Linked DNA regions of Homo sapiens: region 1 is linked to region 2. Evidence: fine-mapped expression QTL. A gene starts in region 2. The other region holds a variant in brackets. All regions are shown on one strand. Distances are between the middles of the regions.

Region 1 (5,376 bases), 73 kb after region 2:
AAGAACCTGAGGGGGCGGAGAAGAGAGTCGCCCTGTTGTCTCCTTCCAGCGTCAGCCTAACCATCAGTGTGAGCTGGGACACACCCCCAAGGCACACTTGTGTGTGAGTGTGTGCATGTGTGTGTGTCATTGCTATGGGGTAGATAATGACCAGTACCTACAGGCTGGAAAGGAAAGAGGTGAGGAAGTGAGAGGGAGGAAGAGGGAAGACAGGAGAGGCCAGAAGTACGTGATTGTAAGGAATTAAGAGCAGTTTAATGGAGAGTCAACATTGATGGGTACTCCAGTTCATTCCTTTGCCTGTTCCGACAGGATGATTATACACACACACACACTCCAGCCTAGGTTTATGACTGCCTCACCTGGATGGTAAAGCTCCACTTGCAGGTAGAGTCCAATTCAAATGTTATTTGGGTCTCTGTCATCTCTGTTTTCTCATCCTCATTGAGTCTCTTTTGCTAATGCCATCCCTGGTGGGCCAGTGCCCTCAGTGTGAGTATTTCTTCTGGCTTCCTAGCCTTTTATTTCCTTCAAGAGTAAGGTGAGATTGAGCATGGCAGAAGCAGCCTGGACACAGACCAGACCCTGCTGTGCTGGAGACACTACAGACACCAACCTTCTAGCAGCTGCTGCCCTGGAAGGCTCCCCAGAGGCTTGATTATTTGAGGACAATGGATGAACTTTCACATTTTGTTCTAGAATCATGACCTATTATGTGTAGGGTACTGTTGTGCAAATATCACTAGATGGCATTTTCTTGGCTGACATTTTCACTCATTGAAATGTAAAAGAATTTGCACTGATTGGCCTGTTTGTTGTTCTGTATGTAAAAATGGCCTTCACGCCTTTTTTAAGTGTGAGGCACTCCCTTTTAAAAAATATTTTAGCAGAAAGCTAAAACAAAACATCTGACAGTGGAGGTGCACTCTTTGAAATAATTGTCTCCCATCTCCCGCCTCATCCACTCAGCTCCTTTTCCTTCCCATCGTGCCCCTGAGAGACTCAGAAGACCCCTGCTAAGGCTTAAGGGAGTATAGCCTCACAACTGCAGGGTGAGGCACTGCAGTCCACTGGTGATGTGGAAGAAGCAAGATCAGGGGATGATACCCTGTTTATAAAAGTCAGCACATGCATGATGATCCTTATCTCTGCATAGAGTTTTCTGTAATTCTTGCTTTGCATATTTTCTAATTTTCCAAATGGAAACATACATTTCTTATGTGGCTTTAAAAAATGTGAGCAAAATATACATGCATATGATAAAAGAGAGGATAACATAATATAGAAAAATAGCTTGCAGGGTTATTGGATTGTGGATGATTTGTCTCTTCATTTCCTAAAATGTCCTCAATAGTAACAGCAAAGAGACTTTGGGAAACAGAGGCACATGGATGAACTTTAATATTTTATTGAATAGTGACCCAGCCAAAGAGAATCCTACTCTACTATTATTAGGTAAGGCTTAATAGAAAGATATAATTAGGCCAGGTGTGGTGGCTCACGCCTGTAATCCTAGCACTTTGGGAGGTCAAGGCAGGTGGATCACTTGAGGTCAGGAGTTCGAGACCAGCCTGGGCATCATGGCGAAACCCCACCTCTACCAAAAATACAAAAATTAGCTGGGTGTGGTGGTGCAGGTCTGTGGTCCCAGCTACTCGGGAGGCTGAGGCAGGAGAATTGCTTGAACTTGGAAGGCAGAGGTTGCAGTGAGCCGAGATCGTGCCACTGCAGTCCAGTCTAGGTGACAGAGCAAGCCTTTGTCTAGGAAAAAAAGAAATAATTAATGTTGGACTTATAAAAATTTGCTAAAATTATAATAACTGATAGTAACCTGTAGTAACTTTTGATTTAGTAATAAAGTTTCTCTCAGGCACATCTTTTCCTTCTACCTTCCAGGGTGCACATGGGTGATCCAGCCACTCTCACATGGAAGCATACCTCCTGGACCTGCCCCAAGTGATGTGTCGACTGGCCCCAAATCAACACCTCCAACTCAAGTTTCCACGTGGGATTTGGGCTTCATATTTGATGTCTATGCCAAGGCTGCCCTGGACAGCTCCCTAGCCTAGTTTCAGCAACTCCGGGGGAAGTGGTACCTCTCTGTGGACTCTCCCAGATTTAAAGTAACTGTCTCTTCAACATAGCCCTTATTTTACATCTCAAATGGACCCTTCAGATTTGGTGAGATCTGTCCAGCTGTTTCACATGACATGGTGACAGAAATGTAGTTTTTAGTTTTATTTTTTAGAAATGTAGCTTTGGCCCGGCACGGTGGCTCACACCTGTAATCCCAGCACTTTGGGAGGCCGAGGCAGGTGGATCACCTGAGGTCAGGAGTCCAAAACCAGCCCGAACAAGATGTTGAAACCCCATCTCTACTAAAGATACAAAAATTAGCCGGGCCTGGTGGTGCATGCCTGTAATCACAGCTACTTGGGAGGCTGAGGCAGGAGAATCACTTGAGCCCGGGAGGCAGAGGTTGCAGTGAGCTGAGATTGCGCCACTGCACTCCAGCCTGGGTGACAGAGTGAGGCTGTCTCAAAAAAAAAAAAAAAAAATGTAGTTTTTATTTACAGAGAATTACATTCTTTATTCACAGAACAGTGGTTACAAATTATATTAGTGACACCAAATTGGGAAGGAGCTAGCAGCAATCGGGATTTTATGGAATGATCAAGGATGCAGGCTGTGGAATCAAATCACAGTTTCCAACCCTGACTTCATTGACACCAACCACCTAGGAGATCGGGAACAAACTCAGTCTCCTCATCTTGGTGGGTACTTACTGCAGGGCCTCGGTGTGTGATAGTGAGGGTTAGCTGAGAGGCACATAAAGAACTTAGGGC[G/T]GTGCCTGTTTGCACTAGGGGCGGGTACAGCCAGCTGGTCTCTGAGGGTGCCTGTGAGCCCTGCAGCAGTCCTGTTGCTGAGGCCCCATATTGGCTACTCTGTGACTAAGCCAGTGTATTCGTTTCCTATTGCTGCCATCACAAATTACCTCAAACCTCAAATGGCTGAAAACAACCGAGCTTTACACCGTACAGCTCTGAAGTCAGAACTCCAAAACGGGTCAGCTGGGTTGATTCCTCCCAAGGCTCCGGGGAGAATCTGCTTCCTGGCCTTTTCCAGCTCCTAGAGGCCGCCTGTGTTCCATGGCTTGTGGCTCCGCATCACCCTGACCTCTGCCTCTGTCCTCACGTCTCCTCTGGCTGTGGCCCTCCTCCCTCTCTCATGAGGACCTGTGATCACACTGAGCCCACCCAGATGATCTATAAGAATGATTTGTGATCCTAATGTCTAAAAATGGAGTGGCTTGTGTTATGTGTGTAAACCAAAAATAAAATTCTAAGCCCTCAGTCCTCTATATGGACCCGTCCTCTCGGTAAAGGCCCAAAGCTAACTTGCAAACTAGTTCAGGCCATGATGGGAAGGGGAGCCGGACATGCCTCATTATGCAGTCTTCCGTTTTGGAATTACTGATAGAGCAGACTCTTTAAGTCTGATAAGAAACATTTACGGTTTATTATGTCTCACACCTGCTACCTGGAGGCTTCACCTGCATGATAAAAGCTTGGTGTCCACAACCCCTTATCATCATCCAGACATTCCTTTCTATTGATTCAGAAAACCTCTGGGTTTGCCTATGACCTGGAAGCCCCTGCTTCCAGTTGTCCTGCCTTTCCAAACCAAAGTACATCTTACACGTATTGATTGATGTCTCATGTCTCCCTAAAATGTATAAAACCAAGCTGTGTCCTGACCTTGGGCACCTGTTCTCAGGACCTCCTGAGGCCGTGTCATCGGCATGCCCTTAACCTTGGCAAAATAAACCTCTAAATTGATCCAGACTTGCCTCAGATACTTTTTGGTTTTCAAGTGGCATGAAGCCCACAGTGAAGTTGTTTACTCCTTAAAGTGGTAAGCGTATGTGTACTAGACTGAGCCTGAGCTCATAGTAAAGTTGTTTTTCTTTAAGGCGATAAACATATGTATAAGAGATGAGATTACATTTGCTGTGGCATGTACCACTTGAGACCCAAAAGGAACCGATAGAAAATGGAGCCAAAAGGTGGCTGAGATGATGATGACGGACACACCTGGGGAAAACCATAAAACCAGCAAGGAACTGACACTGTCAGAGGCACCTTGAGAATTCCTGCCTGTAGGAGACATCACACTCTGGGGACTGTTGTGGGGTGGGGGGAGGGGGGAGGGATAGCATTAGGAGATATACTTAATGTTAAATGACGAGTTACTGGGTGCAGCACACCAACATGGCACATGTATACATATGTAACTAACCTGCATGTTGTGCACATGTACCCTAAAACTTATAATAGAAAAAAAAAAGTGCCTCCTCCCGGTGAGACGGGCTGCCCAGAGGCTCTGTGTGAGAGGAGTGTCTGCTGTGCTGGCCTCCTCAGCCACAGCCTGGGTTTGCCATTCCGCTCATTACTGCCTTTAGTAATTGTATCATGTCATTCCCATCACTCACAGGAAAAGAAACAATGAAAAAAATAATTGTATTGTGAATGTTTGCTCGATTGATTGGGTATGTGTGAGTCTCTGGCAATAAACCATATTTAAGCATTGCAAATTGGCTACCGGGTCATTGGGAAACCTGGCTTTGATCTGAGCACACAGGCCAGAAGAACCTGATTACAATAACATTTAAAATGAACATAATACCAGATAACCAGCACGTCTCCCATCTCAAGATTCTTAACTAGAGGGACCACATCGGCAAAATCTCTTTTGCCATGTAAGACAGTCACTGGTTTTGGGGATTAGGAGGTAAGACATCTTTGGCAAGGGGCATTATTCTGCTGGCTACACCCCAGTGTTCACTGACTGGGGACTGACGACTAGGTGGCCATAGAGGGCTTGGTTGATGTGCTTCTGATCCAGACCTTCCCTGGTGGATGAATTCAGGTGCAGATGGCACTTTTTTTTTTTTTTTTTTTTTTTTTTTGGAGACAGTCTCACTCTTTCACCCAGGCTGGAGTGCAGTGGTGCAATCTCGGCTCACTGCAACCTGCACCTCCTGGATTCAAGTGATTCTCCTGCCTTAGCGTCCTGAGTAGCTGGGATTACAGGTGTGTGCCACCACGCCTGGCTAATTTTTTGTATTTTTAGTAGAGACAGGATTTCACCATGTTGGCCAGGCTGGTCTCGAACTCCTGACCTCAAGTGATCCACCCGCCTCAGCCTCCCAAAGTGCTGGGATTACAGACGTGAGCCACTGCGCCCTGCCCAGATGGCACTTTTGCCAGCAGTTTATTAAGGAGGAGGGTGATGAGAGCAACTCATGAAATATGTTTTTCTTGCCCCTGAGCATCTCCTCTGCCATGGCCATGGTGCTCATAGGGACAGGTGGAA
Region 2 (5,376 bases):
CTCCGCAAAAACAAACTCTGATCCCCCGGTCTCCTCGAGTCACGGAGCTTGCAAGCTAGTGGGAAAAATTGGGAACTGGTGCAAAGAATGACTGCAAAATAAATTGTGGTCATCTTGAAGACATATGCGTGCATGTGTGCGTGAAGCTTTTTAAATAGAGAAGCTTTAAGTGGGGGAAATTTGCTGACATTACACGATTTCTTCTCTTAGTGCAAATGTATACAGCCTGTCTTTTTGAAGGGGTCACGGTAGATAATTATGCTCTGTTAACCTCATTTGTTGTCAGGGAAAATTAAAACTAAGGGTAGTGTCAGTAGGAATCTTGGTTCCTGCCAGTTTTGTTGTTTGTTAGCATATCTTCCTTTACAGGTAGTATGGTTTCATTTTCGTAAAAATGCTGCATAAACGTGGCTGGGTATGTTACTCATTGCAGTGCCTGCTGATTTCGCTGGACCCCACCCTGCTTTTGCTGCCCAATGCGATAGCATATGGGACAGAGCTAAATTCCTACTCAGCTGTAACTCTGCTTATTTTCAGGAAAAAGAATGCCTGTGTTTCGAAGTTCCTTCTTAGGACGAAACCAGCTGAAGCTGGCGAAATCCAAGATGGCGCCTCTGAAGAGCCTCTGGCTTTATCATCATCCTGTTCTCATGCTAAACAACATGTCGCCATGACAACGACTGGAAGAGACCAAGAAGGGACAGAAAAAAAGGGGTTTCTTGATTCCGGGAAAAATCTCCGTTCTTTCCCAAGGAAAGCACGAATATTCCCCCCCGTGCTCTTAATGCCCAGCCCCTTCATTAAAGACACCCTACCTCTGAAACTTCCCAGCTCTCACAAGCTAAGTTGATTTCAGATCTTCCAATTCCATAGCCATTGAATACAGCCTGCACTGCTTGACACACTCCCTTTCGGTTTCGTGCATTGGCCTCACCACGCAACAGGAAACAACCCTTTTTGGGATAACCGGGACTCCCGGTAACATTTCCATATATACATATCTTAATGTATGCAAGGGCGTCTGGGGGAGAAAGAAGCAGCACATTTCATTCTTTGCTTTCTATAATACTGGATTGCTTGAGTTTGTGACACATGTTAACATTTGCAACATTTTTAAACTAAATTGTATGTATTATAGAACAGTCCTCTGCGCTGAGCTTGGACTTAAAGTGGAAAGGCTTACATTTGCAGAATTAAAAAAAGCATCGAAACATTCTGTGGCAGGAAGTCCTGCGAGCCTCCTCGCCCCAGCCCGGTTTCCCGCGGGCCCCAGCCTCATCCCCCAAGGCCCCACCCTGAGAGCCCCCAGGTCCCAGCCGCGTCCTCCTGGACCCCTCCCAGGCGTGGCGAGCCGGGTCGCGGGAGCGCTCCGCCACCAGGGGACAGTGCGGCGCCGACCGTGGGCTGCTGGCTCGGCCGAGGGCACCCAGGCGCCCTCCGCTGCAGCGGGCTGGTTGCAGAGGGGCGGGCTCTCGCCAGGCAGCAGGCGCTCCGGGCGCAGCTGGGAGGAAGGAACGCCCCCGGGAGTGGGCGGCGGCCGAGGGACCCTGCAACCGTCCTCCCTGGAGGAGGCCCCCGCAGCTCCCGCAGCCCCCCTCATCCCGGACGGGCCGGGGATTGGGACTGGCCTGGGGTCTCCTACTCTCCTACTCCGCGCAGGAAGTAGCCCCTTGGCAGGACCGGCGGTGCCTGCTGCTTTCAGGAGCCCCGAGCCGCTTTTGTCTGGGTGCAGCTCAGCTCACATCCCCGATGCAAGTCTTTCCCGGCTCGTCTCCCCTTCTTCCCGGAGTCCATGCCTTGCTGTCGGTGACTCATCCCACACTGTGCCCTGCGACTCACCCTGTCGCTTTCTCTGTTCATCCGGGAGCGCGGCGCCATCTCCCTCCAGCCCCGCCTCCCCTACAGTGCTCCGTGCTGAGGTCGCACGTTCTCTCCTCCCTCCAGCTCCCTGGCTCTTGGCCCTTCCCAGGCCACCAGGCGACAGCAGCCTCCGCCTTCATTTCCCTTGGTCATTTCAGGCGCATGCTTGGAGGATTTCAGGATCTGACTCAGCTTCCCCGCCATGCATCCCTCCACCAGCATCCAGTCACACCTCTGCAGCCTTCAGTGTCCTGGAAAGGACTGACCAATCTGACCCATTAGAACCTACCCAGACCAATTTGAAGGCCACTGCCCCTCAACCGTGGCCACCCACTCCTGCCCCACCTGGAGCCCCAAACTGCTCAGTTCCTTCTCTAAAACTCTGCCCTCTTTTGTTTGTTGTGAATAACTGTCTTCCCTGGTTCTTTCCACACCTCTCTGGCCTCTCCTTGTCTTTTTCTGGTTCTTTTTTTCTCTATTCTCCCTTATGCACTGGCCTTGCTGGAGGTCCCTGCTCTCCCTGCAAAACCTCACCACACCCTTGACTTCAGCTATATCCATTTCACCTCACGTTGACATCTGGTGCCTAGACCTCTCTCCCGAGCCTTCCACACCATGCCAAAAATGAAATTCATTTTCTCCTCTAAATTTGCTCACCTTCTTGTTTTCCCAATCTTATTTATTGTCACAGCCATTCCCCTGCTGGTCCAAGTCAGTAGTCTGAGAGTCATGCTAGACTCCTCCTTCCTTATCTACCCATCCACCAATCCCCAAGCCCTGTCTATCCTCCTTTTTTTTTTTTTTTTTTTCCAGTCAGAGTCTTGCTGTGTTGCCCAGGCTAGAGTGCAATGGCACGATCTCGGCTCACTGCAATCTTTGCCTCCCGGGTTCAAGTGATTCTCCTGCCTCAGCCTCCTGAGTAGCTGGGATTACAGGCGCATGTCACCACGCCCAGCTAATTTTTGTATTTTTAGCAGAGATGAGGTTTTGCCATGTTGGCCAGGCTGGTCTTGAACTGCTGACCTCGTGATCCGCCTGCCTCTGCCTCCCAAAGTGCTGGGATTACTGGCATGAGCCACTGTGCCTGGTCATCTATCCTCCTTTTTAAATAGCTCTGCCATGTGTGCCTGTCTCCCCTGACAGCTCACCCTCATCCTATTTGTCCACATTGCTGCAGAGTAGTCTCTTCCATACACCAGGAGTTCCCAACCCCCGGGCCACAGACCTGACTGGTCTGTAGCCTGTTAGGAACCAGGACACACAGCAAGAGGTGAGCCACCAGTGGGTGAGCTAGTGAAGCTTTATCTGTATGTGCAGCTGCTCCCCATTGCTTGCATTACCACCAGAGCTCTGCCTCCTATCAGATCAGGCAGCATTAGATTCTTATAGGAGCACAAACCCTACTGTGAACTGCACACATAAGGGATCTAGGATGTGCGCTCCTTATGAGAATCTAATGCCTGATAATCTGCCGTTGTCTTCATCACCCCCACATGGGGCCAGATAGTTGCAGGAAAACAAGCTCAGGGCTCCCACTGAAAATAAAGTGCACAAGAAGTGTCATGTGCTTGAATCATCCCGAAACCATCCTCTGCTGTCCAAGGAAAAATAGTTTTCCACAAAACCCCTCCCTGGTGCCAAAAAGGTTGGGATGGTTGCCATACATAACTCTGATGATGAGACCACGAAGCTCAGAATCCTCCAGAGGCTCTCCACTGCCTGTAAGATGAAATAAAATTTATGGGTGTGACTTATCCATAAGGGCCCAGTCTAAACTGCCTCATATTTAATTATATAGTAAGCTATTTGTTTCCTCAAACGTATATATTTTGGCCCATTTCCCAGTCTCCTAGGTTGGAATATGCTCTGTGTGTCACCTGGCCAGCTCATGCTCTTTCTCATTCTCAGCTCAAGTGTTAGGGACTCTATGACACCTTTCTTGATTCTCCCAGTCAGACATATTGTTGCTACTTTTTCTTAACACTTATCCTTTTATCCTTGGCACCACTAAAGCACATATCACATCAGATTTCACTTGTTTGCACATCTGTCTGGCATCTTGAGCCCAGGGACCGTGTCGCCTGTCTTCATGTCCCCAGGCCCTAGTGTAGCTCCCAGCCTATAGTGAGTGCAGAATAAAAGTTTGTAGAATGAGGCCAGGCGCGGTGGCTCATGCCGGTAATCCCAGCACTTTGTGAGGCCAAGGTGGGCAGATCACGAGGTCAGGAGTTTGAGACCAGCCTGACCAACATGGTGAAACCTCGTCTCTACTAAAAATACAAAAAATAGCCGGGTGTGGTGGCACGCGCCTGTAATCCCAGCTACTCAGGAGGCTGAGGCAGGAGAATCGCTCAAACCTAGGAGGTGGAAGTTGCAGTAAGCTGAGATCGCGCCACTGCACTCCAGCCTGTGCAACAGAGTGAGACTCTGTCTCAAAAAAAAAAAAAAAAGTTTGTAGAATGAATGAAACAATTAGTTACACCACAGTTAGTGAGTCATCGATACTTCATCAAGGCTGGGTATTTCGTATAATAAAGTTATTAAAGCTGATAAGCAAAGATCAAGTTACCCAAAGAACAGCACTGCCGGTGATCTAAAGGTCTTTGCCCTCAGGTTGCTTAGGTAACGGAAAGGATAAGAACTCCCCACTGTTCTGGGGCGGATCTTACATTGCTTTTGGAAGAGGCAATAGACTTGGGAAAGAAAGGAGTGTGTGTATTGAGGTATTGAGGGAATGGTTAGGTGGGAGGAGTCAGAGAGGAAGGCTGCAGTAGCCCCTCAGTCGACCCTGGCTGCTTTGTCCTTGGGGCTCAGTGAACAGATTATCTGTTTTCATGGTAAGGGGTTGGGATTCTCTACTTCAGGTGGGCACCCAGAAAGTGAATTGCTCGCCTTTGTTTAAAAATAATGAAAATGGGCCGGGCGCGGTGGCTCATGCCTGTAATCCCAGCACTTTGGGAGGCTGAGGCAGGTGGATCACCTGAGATCAGGAGTTTGATACCAGCCTGGCCAACATGGTGAGACCCCGTCTCTATTAAAAATACAAAAATTAGCCAGGCGTGGTGATGGGTGCCTGTAATCGCAGCTACTCAGGAGGCTGACACAGGAGAATCACTTGAACCCAGGAGGCGGAGGTTGCAGTGAGCTAAGATCTTGCCACTGCACTCCAGCCTGGGCTACAGAGCAAGACTCTGTCTCAAAAACAAACAAACAAAAAACCCAAAAATAATGAAAATGTCTGCCCACCCTTCACTAAGTAAACATAATGAAAATGCACATCTTGTGCCCTCTTTTGCTTTTATTCTATAATACCCAAGCCTACGTTTTGGAACTAAACCCCACGCCCTTTGTGTGAAAGCCATGCGGATCTTCAAAGGGATCTCTTTAGGGGGAACATTAAGTTTGCCCAAGGAGGCACCCTTCTGGGTCTCCAAGGCCACCTGGCTGCAATGCAGTCCAATTCCAGCCTCTGTCTCCCAGAGCACCCCCTGTGCCAGGGCGGCAGGATCCCAGGGG

Evidence for each region. PIP is the estimated chance that this variant, and not a neighbour inherited with it, causes the effect. A credible set is the group of variants that fine-mapping cannot tell apart.
Region 1: its variant is the best candidate, but not a certain one, in a credible set for the expression of LINC01011 in testis (GTEx, PIP 0.81).

The regions. Positions count from the first base shown.
Region 1 is chr6:2,911,992-2,917,367 of GRCh38, reverse strand. No RefSeq gene overlaps it. Among named protein-coding and RNA genes, the nearest start is that of SERPINB9, 11 kb to the right of the region's middle. RefSeq lists an enhancer at 444-986. The variant G/T (reference allele first, on the strand shown) is at 2,847.
Region 2 is chr6:2,985,173-2,990,548 of GRCh38, reverse strand. LINC01011 (long intergenic non-protein coding RNA 1011) reads right to left here and starts at 2,582. Exons shown (of 3, transcript NR_026856.1): 1 at 2,518-2,582; 2 at 816-1,021; 3 at 1-680. NQO2-AS1 (NQO2 antisense RNA 1) reads left to right here. Exons shown (of 2, transcript NR_186367.1): 2 at 538-1,213. RefSeq lists enhancers at 1-210, 488-647, 211-1,020, 1,021-1,830, 1,831-2,640 and a silencer at 1,218-1,637.